Regions from separate parts of the Homo sapiens genome. Here region 2 is linked to region 1. Evidence: fine-mapped QTL for protein levels in blood plasma. Region 1 holds a variant in brackets. A gene starts in the other region. All regions are shown on their forward strands.

Region 1 (8,336 bases):
TAATGCACCATAGCCCAAGAAGGAAGATGCAAGTCTCAGCCAGCCCACTTGAAGACCCTGCCGAAATGAGCCACCCCGGGGGCTGCGCTTGGGCTGGCGCGGGGCTGGACGGAAAGGGGGCGGCGCGCAGGTGGGGCGGGCCGGGGGCGGGGCGGCACGGCGGTTCCGGGATCCGGGTCCTGGCCTCCACCGCCGCCTTGGGGCGCGCAGATCGCTGGCTGCAGTTGGCGGGCGCATGTGGGGGCGCACGGCGCGGCGGCGCTGCCCGCGGGAACTGCGGCGCGGCCGGGAGGCGCTGTTGGTGCTCCTGGCGCTACTGGCGTTGGCCGGGCTGGGCTCGGTGCTGCGGGCGCAGCGTGGGGCCGGGGCCGGGGCTGCCGAGCCGGGACCCCCGCGCACCCCGCGCCCCGGGCGGCGCGAGCCGGTCATGCCGCGGCCGCCGGTGCCGGCGAACGCGCTGGGCGCGCGGGGCGAGGCGGTGCGGCTGCAGCTGCAGGGCGAGGAGCTGCGGCTGCAGGAGGAGAGCGTGCGGCTGCACCAGATTAACATCTACCTCAGCGACCGCATCTCACTGCACCGCCGCCTGCCCG[A/T]GCGCTGGAACCCGCTGTGAGTGCACAGCTCTGGGGAGGAAGCCCGCCCTCAGAGCCCCGGGCCTCAGTTTCTCCATCAGAGCAGTGGCAGGGCGGGGAGCTGGGGTCTCCAGGATGGCGCGTCTTATTGAGTCTTTCTCCGAAGACGATAGTGTAAGAGCTCACATGGGGGCGGGGAGGCAAGAAAGTAAAAAAGACGAAAGTAGAAAAAAAATTACCAGAAATTGGCAAGTCTGTTAGTGATCTCTTAGCTCCCTTCTCCTTGAGAAGTTATCATCTCCCTGAAAAGGTGAGGGTCAGGGCTAAGCAGAAGGGTTTAAGGCGAGGACCCCCCAGCACCCAAAGGACAACCCCGCTCTGCCCGCCTCGCAGTGCCTCCGCGAAACTGACAACTCCTCCGGGCGGTGACCGGCTCCATTCATTCTCTGTGTGTGCCAGGGCCTAAGGGACAAACAAGATGCGAGGGAGCGCCCCACAGGTGAAGCGAAAGATGGCTGTAAGGCCCCCTCAGCGCTAGAAAGCCTCCTTGTGCTCTCCCTGGGCATTGGATTTCTGAGCTTTGGGTGGAGGAAGGCGGGAAGGGGCACGGGGTGGGAAGGGCTCCTTCTGGCCGTGATCCACCCCAGCTCACTCCTGTGGGTGGTGCTGGACTGGAGCCAGCGTGGTCAGAGGCCTAGTTCCTGTTGGAGCTACTGGCTGGGCAGGTTGCGCCCCTGCCTAGGTGGGGATCCAGGGCACACGCTGGCAGCAGGAGGAAGGACAGGTGGCTGCTGCCACCTTTGCCGCTGGGCCTCCCGGGCTCTCACTTTTTCTTCGAAGTGTCAGGGATCTTCCAAGTCCTTTTTTGAGCCCCTTCCTTACAGACTTTGAGGAAAAGAGGACTCAGAGAGGGGGTTCCCATTGGAGCTGGTGGTGGCAGCCTGCCGTGTGCACCAGGCACCTGCCACTCCTCTCCCCTTCAAGCCATTCCTGCTTTACAGGTGTGGAAATAGGTTCGGAAAGGATAGGTGACCCACCCAAGGCCCCTCAGCTGGAATGTGGTAGGACTGGTCTGGAGGGACTATGGCCCTTCTGGCCCACTTGGCACCATGCTGATCTCAGGATTTTAGGGGCCTGCTCCATGGTACCTTGGCCAGAGAGACCATGAATGATGGAATGAGGATGCCCCACCTCTGCCCCACTGTTTCCACTGTCTTCCCTGTTTTGGGGATCTCCTCATGCCTAGCCTCATGCTTCTGCCTGAGGCATTTTTCACTGTTAGTCTTTTTGAATAAAACTTTGTTGGGATTGATAGTAGTTCCTCCACTCACCAGCCTAACGCATGTTTAGCTCCTCGAAACCCCGAGGGTGCCCGCTGAGGCAAGGTGGAGGGGAAGCTTTCAGGTTATACCCAGCTTCAGATTAAATCCAGCCCAGGGGAGATAAAATCCTGGTTCTTTTGCTCGTCACTTCTGTGATCTCTGGCAAGCTGCTTAGCCTCTCAGAGCCTTGGTTTCCCTTCGTTTGCGAAATAGGAAACTCATAAAAGTGAGTCTCCATGCATTCTACATAAAAGTGAGTGGAAAGAACACAACTTAGGAATTAATAAAGCATCAATACCTGGGAGCACACTGTGTGCTTAAATCTTAGTTTTTTCACCTTTCCCTGTTGCCAAGAATGTACTCAAGAGGTTGCTTTTGAGAGTCATCCAGGGATTGGTTGTAGTTTTTCTTTCCTGGATCCAACTTCCTTTATTGTCGCAGGTTGTGAATATCTCTTTGAAACACTGTGGACAATCTGTGGGGCTTATGGTAACCTGTCTCCATGGTGACGCAGCTGCCCTGTGTCCTCTCAGGATTTGCTTGTAGATCCTGCTGTTGCATTGACCCTGGAAGTTAAGCCAAACCCAGCATGATAAGGAGTGTGAATGCCTCCTGCTTCTAATTCCTGCAGCAAGGCCTGTTGGGTTATTCTTACCCAGCCAGAGAGAAAGGTGAGCCTGAGCTGTGTGGGTCTCTGTTGGGCCAGGCTTTGAGATGTAACTTCAGAGTGGTCAGTAGGGTCAGGGTATTTTGTGGCATCTCACTTTTATTACAGTTCATCCAGGAGCTAATCAGGGTCTTGAGATTTTGCCTGAGAAACCTGAATGGCAGATCATAAGTTCACAGTGTGGGTATGGGGTTCTCTGCGAGTCTAATAAACAGAGGGATAATGAGGGTCCTTGAATGTTGCAGGAGGGAGGGCCCTGAGGGAGGAGCATCTAGTCTAACCAGAGAGGAAAAGCCACACCCCCAGGTCACATAGCACATCTCAGGCAGAGCCACAGTCCATATCTGTTACTCGTTCCTCCCTTTTTGGGTGGGGATGATTATTTCTATGTTTATTTTAATTATGAAAGCAATGCATATTCACTCTAGAAATGTTGGCATGCACAGAGAAACAGAAAAGGAAAAAAATGAAAATCCCCAATAAACCTACCACTCAGGGAGAACCATTGTTAACATTTTGCTGTGCCTCCTAGACTTTTAATGAAAGTCTTTACTCTGCAGTGCCTTTTATCAGAGGAAAGGAGTTGGGAATGACTAAGGGACCACTTGGTTTGACTCTTCCTGGTGTCAGCAGGGTGTGGCACTGTGTCTGCCTTCTTGAAGAAGGCCAGACCACTAAAAAGACATTTTAGAGTACTGGTCCTAATTCTGTGAGAGCCAGTATAGACCTGGGCCCCTCTATGAATCTAATAATTTACATGCCAGTGGATTCGAGTATAGTTTTGTTAGTTACAGCACTGAATTGAAGAGGAGGCTAATGATGACTAGGAATCCTTCCTTGCATGGTAACATAGTAAGTATTAATATATATTAATATAAATAAGTATAGTAAGTAAGTCAGTAAGCATAGTAGTATAGTATGACTAGCATCTCAGCAAAGAAGGTGAATTTTTACTCTGAGATGATAGCGGGTCAAAGTGGGGAGACAGATAGTTGGGTGTGTGGCCCTGGGGAACTTTAAAAAATATATTGATGCCAGGAATCTTCCCCAAAACAATGAAATCAGAATATCTGTGGCTAGGACCTAGGCTGAATCTGATATGCAACCACGGGTGAAAGCTACTGGCCTAGAGCCTGTGGATTTCTGAGTCAGAAGATTTAGGGTGAGTGTTTTGGAGGGTGTGGAGAATACCAGAACTAGAGAAAGTAAGGATTAATAACAGGTCAAATGTAGTTCAAGCCAGTGATGACATCATAGTCAACTGAGTGGTGTGTCACAAGGAAATGGTTATTAGTAATGTTGTACCAAAATTTGCAAAAAGTTTTAGTTTCCATAGAATACGGGGAACTTGAGATGATCACTGTAACATCATTCTCATTTGCATTCTGATATTTAGTAGAAGAGAGAGTGGAGTAACAGACAGTGCCCTCAGGGCTGGACATTTCTTCAGGTCTATCTATGACAGGAATCCCATATGTGTGAACACCAGCCATTCTCTACCAGGGCAGAAGAACTGTGAACCATTGGTCAAGGAAAGCATGGTGTTTTTATTTCTTGACTTGCTCTGGTTTTAGGCTTGTTAATACTATAATTGCAGATGTGTGTCTGAGTTCAGGGGTCAGGATTTGGGTGCTGGGATGGCAAAGAGTCTCGAAGTCGTTCTTTTTTTTTTTTTTTTTGAGATGGAGTCTTGCTATGTTGCCCAGGCTGGAGTACAATGGTGCGATCTTGGCTCACTGCAACCTCCACCTCCTGGGTTCAAGCCATTCTCCTGCCTCAGCCTCCCGAGTAGCTGGGATTATAGGCAAGCGCCACCACACCCAGCTAATTTTTGTATTTTTAGTAGACACGGGGTTTCACTATGTTGGCCAGGCTGGTCTCAGACTCCTGACCTCAGGAGATCTGCCCGTGTTGGCCTCCCAAAGTGCTGGGATTATAGGCGTGAGCCACCATGCCCAGCCTCAAAGTGGTTCTAAACAGGTAATTAAGCAAAAGTATGTCTTGCTAGGGTTGCAGAAGGGAGTAGGACATTAGACTGATGTTTATTTTGTTTCCCCAACAAAGTTGTGGATATTTTATGAATTCTTATTAGATCCATCTTGAGAACATCAGAGTGGCATTCTTTCTTGAGTCAGTACTCCAGTACTTCAAATCCACAGAACATGTTCAATTTCGGTTAGTATTTTCCTGATACCTTTTTCTTTCACTCATTCTGTGTCCATATGTTTTTGGTGTGTCTTTGAATAGTATGTTGCTCGATTTTGTGTTGTCATTAAAAAAAAATCCAGGCCAGGAGTGGTGGCTCACGCCTATAATCTCAACACTTTGGAAGGCCGAGGTGGGTGGATCACTTGAGGTCAGGAGTTCGAGATTAGCCTGGCCAACATGGTGAAAACCTGTCTGTACTAAAAATAGAAAAATTAGCTGGGCGTGGTGGTGGGTGTCTGTAGTCCCAGCTACTTGGGAGGCTGAGGCAGGAGAATTACTTGAACCCAGGAGGCTGGAGGTTGCAGTGAGCCAAGATTGCACCACTGTACTCCAGCCTGGGCGACAGAACAAGACTCCATTTAAAAAGAAAAATCCAAACTGACAATCATTAACTTTTAACAAGATAGTTATATCCACTTACATTTATTGTGCTTACTGATGCTTTTGGATTTGATAGTGCTGTCTTATTTTATGTTTTCATTTGTTATGCTTTTTTGGTGTTTTCCCCCTCTTTTTTCCTACTGCTTTTTGAGTCGATAGAGGCTTTTCCCCTCATTCCATTTTTTTCCTCTCTACTAATTTAGTAGTTATATTATCTATTTCTAACCTTAGTGGTAAATTTTAAAGTACATATTTAACTCAACAAAGTCTAAAATTAAATATTAACTATGGACCATAGAATGCTTTAGTATTGATCATCTTCTCTCCTAATTTGTATGCCATTTTGCTCCAATATTTTAATTCTGTCTTGCTTTTAAACCAACAAATTAGAATAGCTAAAAATGCAGTATTTATTTGTTCAGATTTATCCACAAGTTTACCATTTTCTCTGCTCACTATTCTTTCCTGAGTCAGAGACCTTTCTGGGATTCTTCTCCTTCTTCCTGAAATACATCATGTATTAATTGCTGTAGAGAGGTCTATTGTTAGTCCTCAGTTTTCTTTATCTGAAAATGTTTTTATTTTGCTCTTGTTCATGAAAGTTTTGCTGGGTATATAATTCTACATTGGTAGTTTGACATTTGAAGGTATTATTCCCTTGTCATCTGGTTTGCACCATTGCTATGAGATGCCTACAGTGACCCAGATCTCTCTGTCATTCTTGTTTCTTTGTCATTCATTTGAGGTCTTCTTTTATTTAAGCATATTAAGCATACTTATTTTATACTCTATGTCTGGTAATTATGTTATCTAGATTAGTGTTTTCTTGTTGTTCCTTCATGAAGAAGACTTCTTTTACTTTCCTGTCGGCTAAGCCATCCATTTAAAAAATTTTTTTTTTTTTGAGATGGAGTTTTGCTCTTGTTGCCCAGGCTGGAGTGCAATGGTGCGATCTCAGCTCACTGCAACCTCCACCTCCTGGGTTCAAGTGATTCTTCTGCCTCAGCTTCTCCCTAGTAGCTGGGATTATAGGCGCCTGCCACCATGCCCTGCTAATTTTTGTATTTTTAGTAGAAACGGGGTTTCACCATGTTGGTCAGGCTGGTCTTGAACTCCTGACCTTAGGTGATCCACCTACCTTGGCCTCTCAAAGTGCTGGGATTACGGGTGTGAGCCACAGCGCCCAGCCAAGAGATTTAAAAAAAAAAAACTTTTTATCAAGATTTTTTGGGTGTATATACCAGGAGTGTTTCCCTAGACATCTTAGTCTTCCATGTTGCCAGAAGTAGAAGTCCTATATTCACTTTTTAAAAATAATTATTTTCTACACTAGACAGGATTCTTTTGGTTAAAAGTAACTGAAAGCCCAATGCAAACTGCCTTAAATATAAAAGAAAATATATTGGGTTCTATTATAGAAAAGTCTGGGATGAGAACTGAGTTCAGGTTATTCTGGGCCCTGGATTCAGGGACTCAATTGATGTCATCACGAAATTATTGATTGGTCAGGCCTGAGGCATGTAACCTTCCCAGGGGTAGGGGTGTGTGTCTGTGTGTCTCTGTGTGTATATGCATGTGCTTGTGTATGTTCAGCCCTCCACAAACCACATAGACTGAGAATTGGAAAAGGTTGGCTCTTGAAAGGGAAATCAAGATGCAGTGTACAGTGAAGAAAGGAGAAAGGATTCTAGGCAGGTAAGACACAAAAATGTACATCACGATCTCCTTGGCCTTTTCTACAGAGGATATGATTTGATTTTTTTTAAAAGACATTTATGTGATAACCTTAATATAAAGATAAAAGAAGATCAGGAGGGGCTGGGTGCAGTGGGTCATGCCTGTAATCCCAGAACTTTAGGAGGCCAAGGAGGGCGGATCACTTGAGGTCAGGAGTTCGAGACCAGCCCTGTCCAAAATGGCGAAACCACGTCTTTACTAAAAATACAAAAATTAGCCAGGCATGGTGGCGGACACCTGTAATCCCAGCTACTTGGGAGGCTGAGGCAGGAGAATTGCCTGAACCTGGGAGGCAGAGGTGGCAGTGAGCCAAGATCCCACCACTGCACTCCAGCCTGGGTGAAAAAAAAAAAAAGGAAGATCAAGAGGCATTTACTGTATCCATTAATTCATTCATATCCATATAATAAGTAAATATTCTACCAGCAGAGATTATTGTAGTCCCTACCCAGTAGGGTTGTTAGGAAGGCTACATGAAGTAATGTGTATAAAATGCTTATATGGTGCCTCTCCTGTATTAAGCACTCAACAAATGGTACTGTTACTACCAGGTAAAGTACAAGGCGTGCTGAAAATACAGAGACAAACACAGCTCAGTCTCTGCCCTTACAAAGCACATGCAATATACCAGAAACTTAGGGAAATGATTGTGTGCTGTGATGTAGCATTAAATCCAGTTCTGAGCTTCCTTTTGTCCTCAAGGCAAAAGTGGAACCTTAAAGTGATCCATAGCTGTCTTTGTATGATCAAAAGATGCACAGCTTTTTATTAGTCAGGAAAAGGAGAAAGTGTTTTTTTCTGGAAGCAAACTTAAAGACATTTCAAAAAGATATACAGACGATCTCCGATTTAAGATCGTTTGACTTAAGATTTTTCAACTCTATCATAGTACCCATTGCAACCAACCTGGTTTTCACTTTTGGTACATATTTGGTAAATTATATGAGGTATCCAATACTTTATTATACAGTAGATTTGTGTTAGATGATTTTGCCCAACTATAGACTAATGGAAGTGTTCTGAGCACATTTAAGATAGACTAGGCTAGGCTGTGGTGTTCAGTAGGTTAGGTGTATTAAATGCATTTTCTACTTAGAATGTTTTCAACTTACGATGAGTTTATTGGGATGTAACCCCACCGTAAGTCAAGGGGCATTGGTATTGAACCTCATAAAACAGAATGCCTTTAGGAGATGTTTTCAAAAAAGAAACAGAAACTATACCAGGACAAGAAAAAGAGAAAGGGCAGAGTATTAAATTATTGCTCAATGAAGGCATTTGCTGTGAGGAACTAAAGAAATATGATCTAATCTTTTAAAAATAATATTTCTTTGTGATTATAAAAATTATAGATGTTCATTTTAGGACAATTTTAGAATGCACAAAAATATAAAAAGTAAGAATCAGCAATAATCTCACTTCTTAGAGATCACCATTGATAACATTTTGGCA
Region 2 (8,336 bases), not on the chromosome of region 1:
AGTTATCTGTGTAATTTGGGGTTCAGATTAAATGCCTGCCTTAAGACAGCGTCAGTAAGAACTGAGGCTTAATGAAGTCCTGCACTTCCCATAGCATGCAACAACAAAAAAGAGAGATGACAGTATTTCAGATCCACTGTTGCTTGGAAATTTTGTTAGAATTTCTTGTAAAATATGTGTTTAACAGAAATCCTGCCAGCATTTACAGTTTTAAATCTTTAAGGAAAGGACACAAAAGCAAAGTTGGAAAAAATTTTAGCTTTACCATTATTTGCTTGTTCAAGATTCTTAACCATTAATATCTTTAATTTTTACAAGGCTAAAGGAGCCCCAAATCTAACAAACTTAAGTGTCTTTGGTTTAAGGCATACTATTGGTAACGAGTAATTTTATCTTTAATAGTTTTTATAATGCATGTAAAAAAAGCTCCCAGATAGAATATTGAAGGAAACCTCTTATGTGTGCTTAACAAAATTATTTCTACCTAAAATATTACATATTTTTGGCCTTTTAGTCATGAATTTAATTACATCTTCTGGGTTCTTATTTTCTATTGTTAATACCACTTACATAATGCTTTTGTGTGTATATCAATAACTTAGCTTTTCCAAGTGATTCCATTTGTAGCAAGTTTAATTTCTGTCATCCAAATTAAATTACTATTACATGTAAGCCTGGAAAGCTATTTAAAATTTTGAGTTGGAACAAGAAATGCCATAGATTAATCTTAAATCTGTACAAGAATTTCTGCTTAATATTTGGTTATACTGTAATTGAGATTTTGTTGCAAAGACTTTCAACTATTTTTGTATCTTAGCTTTGTTTTATGACTACACTGAGAAATCCAACAGTTTATGTATATCTTCAGCACACACACTGTGGCTGCAGGAAGAGAAACTAATTGTGTTCACGACTATTTAGTTTGTATTCCTTTGTTTTTAATCATTGTGCTGTAAGCCTTATACATTTAATCTGTTACTTGTTAAAATTTCTTTCTACTGTCACTAAAGCACTTGTTTTCAGAAACCCAGCATGGCATGCATGTATCAGTCTGTAATCATATACACTAAACATCATTAAATTGAACCTCAAATAATGCATTAACCATTGCACAGTACTTAATGTTTTTATGTCAAGTTGCAAGATAAAACCTTTTTCAGATGAGATAAACTGTAGTATATTCCAAAGGTCTTTGTTTAGTAAAAGATTCTGAAATTTCTACTACAAATATAAAATAGTTATGCATTTGCTATACATAATATTTTTAAATAAAAGAAATATTAAATACCTTTTTGTGTCTGTTGATTCAGTGAATCCAGAAACTTGCTGCCCTTATTCTTGATTTTAAAAATCAGTGTAGAAGTTTGTTCATCTGTGACTTTAATGGCAGCTGCATTTTTGTTTTGGACCGTTGAATCCAAGCTGTAAGAAGGAACTTCTTTTTCCTTTTACAATACTAATCAATTGAATTTGACAAGCCACCTATGTAATTTTAAGTAGTATAGTGGAAGTTCTGGTCTGTGGGCCGTCTTTAATCCAGCAGAGAAAGCGTTGTGGCTTTGCTCTGTCTGCCACATGGAGAAATGCAGTAACCAGCTGCAGCTGACCCAGATTGTATATACAGTACCCCTGAATAGTGATTCCCTCTTTCTCAGTAGACTCAAGTTCAGCCCACATATTACATCACCAAAAATTGCTGGAGACTGGGGGCGGGAATCTCCTTAGGATTTCCTCTTTGTAGCCTTAAATAGGGGGGTGGGATCAGCAGGAGGTTGAATAGTTTTGAACAAGGAGAGATTGTGTGCAGGTTGAAGGAAGGGCACCATCTGGAAACAAACTATCATAGTTCAGCGGGCAATTATAAAACAAACATTTTAGTCTGCTGGCCAGAGATCTTTTAAGTTGAATACCGAAAAAAAAAATAGTGCTCCACTTCACTTAGAAGTAGTTGCAGGCTGATGAGTTTGGTTTTTGTTAACAAAGAACAAGAGCTAGACTTTGTCAGGAGGCAGCCACCTAAATAATGTAATAAATACTCTTTATAGCCTAGAAGAATTTGTAAACATTTTACTAAGTTGCTAATGAAGGTTTTAAACTTACAAGAAACTTGATGTTGTTGTAGTATGTTATGTCTTACTGTGTAATGTGTCTTAAGATAAAACAGCCTTTATATATAATTACCAAACATAAGTGAAATTCTTTCAGATGCTTAAGACTTTTAAATATTACATTCTGGTGTTACATAATGTCATATCCTCCTATTCTACAAAATGACCTCTCCTCTCTGTAAAAGGTCATTCTTGTTATTAATTGATGTGGTGTGGTTTAAAAACAAACATAACCCTGAACTGAGTAAAAAACAAGGAAGCTCTGACTCTATGCCAGCTATGTGAACTTAGACAAATCACTTTACCTGCCTCTGGCAAGGTTCTTCTGCTATGAAATAAGGTGGTGGAAGAAATGAATAAGTGTTGAGTACAACTATACTATTGTATTTCATTAATTGAAGAAATGTTAAATAACTCAGTAGCTGAAGAAACACAAACTTAGGCTTAAGTAACTTAGCTTAGCACTTAAGTACTAAGTAGTGGAACTGGGATTTGAATCTAATGCCAAAGCATTATGCCACACTCTCTGTCATTGATTACCTAGTTGCTGTAAGCTGCTTCTAGATAAAACTTTTGGGCTTTCTCTACATACCTGTGCTTTCCCTTCCTTATTGCTGTAGCTTGTGCTGTGTTTCTCTTTCTGTTAGGCCACACTGTTGATCCACATCCTTTATTTAAAGTCTGAGCTTATTTTCTACCTCTTTCACAGAATCATTTATTTGAATTCCTATGCCATATATAGGTATACCAGAGGTTGCAAACACAAGGGCCTAGAAAGGCAAATGCTCACAAGAAGAATGGAGCAGGTAATATAAATCAGTGAAGTAAATCAGTAGTAAGATACTGGAGGGAAATGAAGTTTATGGCAAGTTGGCATCCTTTTGGTTAATTTAAAGGGATCTGCCTGCACCTTCTCAGCTGTGCTTGTGGCCATGAAGGATTATGAGACAGTGTTGCCAGATCTTCCCATTATTCAGGAAAAAAGAGCCATTTAGATTTTTCCTGTAATACTTCCTGATTTTAAAAAACATTGGGACAGATGTGCTGCCAGCTTCTGGCCTCTGATTTGTATTATGTATCGTTTCTTGAGCATTCAGTAATTATGTTGTAGTCACTAATGGCTTAAATCTGGGAAAAATAAGAGATAATAAATTCTTTCTGAGCTTTTAAACTTTCAGCAGTTTGGAGCTTTCTAACTTGAGCACTTAGTAATATCACTAGCCAGGGTAGGAAATTGGAATGACAGGTATTTAGGGACAGATTATGGTTAGATATGTTAAATTGAAAATGAAAGTCAGGAGCTCAGTTATATGGAGAGATTTGAAAGTCACCAGCAATTAGGTAGTAGCTAAAGCTATGGAACTAAGATACTAGAGAAAGTACATGTAGAATGTAAAGGAAGGTTAATGACAGACCATGATACCAATTTCCAGGAAACCAGCTTACAAGAAACATGAGGAAAAAGAAGAATGGTGGGGGCTTAGGGGGAAGATACGAAAGTTCAAGGTAGGGAAAACCTGAGAACTAGACGAGAATGGTTACAATACTGCAGAGACATTACATAGGGAGGGGAGACCAAGAGAGATGTTTTAAGACTTAGAATGAGAAAGTTATTAATGCCATTGCCAAAATAAGTGATACATACAGATTTCAGATTATTTAGTGTGTTGAAGGGTGACTAGATAAAATTTAACTGACAAATTAGTGTCCACAATACATTAAGAAATTAGAAATCCATAAGAAAAAGACAACCCAAAAGAAAAAATGAACAGAAACATTTATTACATAGAAATATATACGTTTAACCTTATTACTAATCAAGGAAATAAAAATTAAGACACAGAGAGATACCATTTTATACTCAGAAGATTGGCAAAATTGAGATGGATAATACCAATTGTTAGCACAAATGTGGATCAACAGAAGCTTATATACCGTGAGTGGGAGTATGAATTGATACAGCTTTGAAAAATAATGTGACACCATCTTGTAAAGTTGAATATTAATATACTTTAGCACTTGGCAGTTTTGCTCCTAGGCATGTTTGTATATCCTGAAGAAATTTTGTACATGTGTACTGGGAGATGTGTATAAGAATGTCTATAGCAACATGGTTGGGGGTGGGATGGGAGTAACTCAAAAGTCTATCAAATAAAATGGATGAGTTACAATTGTCACACATTAGCTTGTTCTCATTATAAGGAATTACAGCAGCATTTAACAGCGTGGACAAGTCTTAGAAACAAAATAGACGAAGCAACCACAGAAGACCATATTTTTAAATTTTATTTAATAAATGCTTATAAATCACTTGGTATGTACTAGACACTTTTTTTTTGAGACGGAGTCTTGCTCTGTCACCCAAGCGGGAGTGCAGTGGTACGATCTCGGCTCACTACAAGCTCCGCCTCCTGGGTTCTCGCCATTCTCCTGCCTCAGCCTCCCATACTAGACACTTTTCTAACATTACAAATACTATTATTTAATCCACACATACAATAAAATATGATTTTTAAAGCTCAAAAATAGGCAAAAGTAGGAATACAGACAAATGTCGGGGAAAAAATAAGGGAATGATCTTAAAGTTCAAGGTAATGGTTACTTCTGGACAGGAAGCAAGGAGATGAAGTAGAGAAGGAACATACAGATAGATGCAACAGTATTGATGATGTCGTAGTTCTTTTTTAAAGTAGTTTACCCCAACATATTAAAATATTAACATGTAACCAATAAAAAAGTTAATAGATATTTTACATTAATTTTTCATGTTAACTCTTCAAAATCTTGTCTATTTTATATTCAAATACACCTCAATTCAGAATAGACCCACGAAACAGTAGTCACATGTGGCAAGTGGTTATATTGGACAGCACAGTATAGCGAGTGACTACAGGCGAGTTGTCATCTGAGTTTAATAAGATGGAAGAATGGCAAGAACTGGCACATTAGTACCCCGCTCAAATCCCACTTCTTCCTTGAAGCTTTCTCTGATCCCATCAGCAAGGAATGACATTTTTTTGCACAGAATTCTTATGAAACTCCTGTTTAAACTTTTCTGTGCTACTTTTTTATATCTTCTATTGCTGTTATTGATGTACATATGCCAACATCCCCGTGCCATTTCCTTGAGGAATCTTTTAGCTCTCCTTAGGGATGTTGTAGTCATAAGTTGACTGGTCTTTCACAAATGTTTATTATGTTGTTTGATAACAACAAGTGTCACATGTGTTGATAATTTTTTCTTAGGGCAGGAGTCTCACCATGTTGCCCAGACTGGTCTCAAACTCCTAAGCAGTCTGCCCGCCTCAGCCTCCCGAAGTGCTGAGATTACAGGCATGAGCCACCGTTCCCGGCAATAATTTTTGTGAAATCACGATTCTCACACAAATATGAAATGAATATGTGTCAGAATTTTCATTTAAATTATTAAATTTATAAGGGAATCAAAAATGTGTCAAGGGAGAATTCAAAGTAACACACATATATGCAATCAGGAACGCTGAAGTAAATTTACAAATAGTTGCAAAATTGGTCATCACTGATTAGATCCCACTGGACATAATTCTTTGGCATGTTTATGGACAATAATTTGTATTACCAGTTTTCAACAGCTGTGCAGAGTTGTAAAATAGCTCAGAAGGACCAAATGGGTGCACTGGAGACAGGATACCCAGTAATCTTTTTTCCCATCTCAAAGTTTTTCACAATTTTCCTGACACATGTGTATCAAATATTACATTAAAAATAGAACGAAGAATAAAAGAAGTGTACTATTGTATGTTTCTCTTCCAAGGTGTTTGTTGAAGGGAGGACAAGGATGTTATCTTGAGGCGTGGGATCAGATTTGAAGGAAGAGTTGCTTAGATTTTGTTTTATAAGTAGGGGAGATTTAAACATGTATATTGGGCCAGGTGCAGTGGCTCATGCCTGTAATCCTAGCACTTTGGGAGGCTGAGGCGGGTGGATCACTTGAGACCAGGAGTTCGAGACCAGCCTGGCCAACATGGTGAAACCCCATCTCTACTAAAAATGCAAGAACTACCCAGGCGTGGTTGCGCATGCCTGTCATCTCAGCTATTCGGGTGGCTGAGGCACAAGAATCACTTGAACCCAGAAGGCAGAGGTGGCAGTGAGCCGAGATCGCACCACTGCATTCCAGCCTGTGACAGAGCAAGACTCTTTCTTGAAAAAAAAAATGGTTTAAAAAAAAATATGTATACTGGCTCTGGGGAAGGAGCCAGTAGGGGTGAATGATAGTAGAGGCAACAGTGGTTGTCTGGAAGGAGGCAGCAACGATTGCATTCAAAATTACAGTTGAGATTTCGGAAGAAGAGAGAGATGATTCTTCCTCCAAGATTGGGGAAAGTGGGAAGAACCTCAGCTTCATTTGGAACCTCAAGATTCATTTGGAGTCATAGGGAAATAAAGTTGAGGTTATCTAAAGAAAAAAAAGTATGATAGGTGACTTAAAGAATACTGTAAAGATTTACTGAGTGGAAAATGAATGATACTAGGATGAGTAAAAAGATTGCCATGCCAACCTTTTATGTTAAGCACCTATTGTCAAAACATTGCACAAGATTTTCTTTCTCTTGGAGTGCAAGATAGAGCAACTGCCTTAAATGAGTTTGCAGTCTTGAATAGATAAGATATAAATGTAAAAAAAATAAGTAATGAGATTTTGAAGTCATAAAAGTCATTAAGTGAATAGTAAGCACACATAATGTATGATTTTTTAATAGAATATAAGTAATTTTTTTTTAAATTGGGCTATAAGTGAAACGTCTGAGATCCAGCTGTCACTAACAGGTTGCATGGCATTAGACAGGTCCCTTTACTATCTATGTATTTCAGGTTCTTCATCTATAAAAGGAGAGGATTAGACTAGACAGTGTCTGAATTCCTTTCTTGGAATCTGTGAGAAAACTAGAGAATATTGACACCGAATTAGATAAGCAAAATATAAGATTTGGATAGGCAGAGATAAGTCCAGAAAACATTTTAGGTATAAGAAAAAGCTGAGTAAAAACAGGGTTTATTTAGAAGGCAGTGGGTATGTCATTTTGGTTGCATTTACCCTGAGAGTACATGAACATGAAGTAATGGGGTAAAAGTAGGAAGGTATGTTTTTCTTTTCTCTCCAGCTATAGTTGTCTAATACATTTCACATGTGCATTGTGAACTCTCCAGAAATAAACTTAAATAAGTGACCTTTCATGTTAAGGACTAGTACAACCAAATTTTAGAGGATGTGTTATTTTTGTTGGTACAAAAAGCATGGAGGGTAAGAAATAGTTAACTTCAATTTGTAGTCACATGAACCATTTCAGAAATTTATTTGTTGATCTTTAAAATGTAAAACATTTCTACCAGATTGAGATAATTTTCAAAGTAGTTAAGACTCAAATGATAGCTATCAACTCAAGGCAAGAGAGTAAAAACAAATATTAAATAATTTCCCTATGTCAGTCAGTGGCTGGGCTGCTGGCTAAATTAATATCTTCAAGTTGTAACACACCTTGGAAAATGGATACTTGCATAGGTTTTAAGTCTGAGGTTCTCAGTTTAAAATAACTCTCCATTATGAAACTAGTCAGAGGCAGAGCCAATTGAAGAACTCAGCTCCTTTCCATTAATTCCCATATGTGCTGGAGTTTCTAACTCTAGCCTCAAACTATACTTGAAAATGAAATCACAAGAAGACATTTACAAAATAGCATATTATTACAAAAAATTGGTATATGTCTGACCCCAACTGTATGGAAAGCTAGGCCCCAGTAACCATATGTTACCCAGGCTTCAGTGTATTAATAGCAATATATTTTAAATGTAGCGTACAGTGGAATATATCTATAAACAACCCCTTCCCCCCTTTTCTTTGTCATAGTCTCCCAACCTACAACTAAGAAAACGTTCATTTATCTAATTGTATTTCAGGTATCTATTTGTCAGATTTAACATACATCGATTCAGCATACCCATCAACTGGCAGCATTCTAGAAAATGAGCAAAGATCAAATTTAATGAATAATATCCTTCGAATAATTTCTGATTTACAGCAGTCTTGTGAATATGGTAAGTTTCTAGGGGATAATGCCAAGCCATTAAGATTGCTGTAATCCAGTGATTTATTTACACACACTGATGATCACTTTTCACACAGCAGGGGACATCAATTTCTTATTTCCATTCTAATGTAAAGGAAAATAATGCTTGTTTTATTTTGCC

Alleles and levels. Alleles are on the strand shown, and positions count from the first base shown. The strength of an association depends on the size of the effect and on how common the allele is.
For the plasma level of the protein whose gene starts at base 1,625 in region 2, allele T in region 1 goes with a lower level than allele A (weak association).

The links. A credible set is the group of variants that fine-mapping cannot tell apart. PIP is the posterior inclusion probability: the model's chance that the variant is causal. The UK Biobank Pharma Proteomics Project read protein levels with antibody pairs (Olink). The fine-mapping took linkage between variants from a reference panel, not from the people measured, so its PIPs are less certain.
Region 2: it holds the start of ANGPTL1, and the variant in region 1 is the best candidate, but not a certain one, in a credible set for the plasma level of the ANGPTL1 protein (UK Biobank, PIP 0.71).

The regions. Positions count from the first base shown.
Region 1 is chr9:98,807,464-98,815,799 of GRCh38, forward strand. It overlaps GALNT12 (polypeptide N-acetylgalactosaminyltransferase 12), which reads left to right and starts at 207. Exons shown (of 10, transcript NM_024642.5): 1 at 207-606. The coding sequence starts at 236. It overlaps LOC124902229 (a long non-coding RNA gene), which reads right to left and starts at 117. Exons shown (of 2, transcript XR_007061689.1): 1 at 1-117. RefSeq lists silencers at 89-178, 279-348. The variant A/T (reference allele first, on the strand shown) is at 591.
Region 2 is chr1:178,869,453-178,877,788 of GRCh38, forward strand. ANGPTL1 (angiopoietin like 1) reads right to left here and starts at 1,625. Exons shown (of 6, transcript NM_004673.4): 1 at 1,289-1,625. It overlaps RALGPS2 (Ral GEF with PH domain and SH3 binding motif 2), which reads left to right. Exons shown (of 20, transcript NM_152663.5): 9 at 8,046-8,183.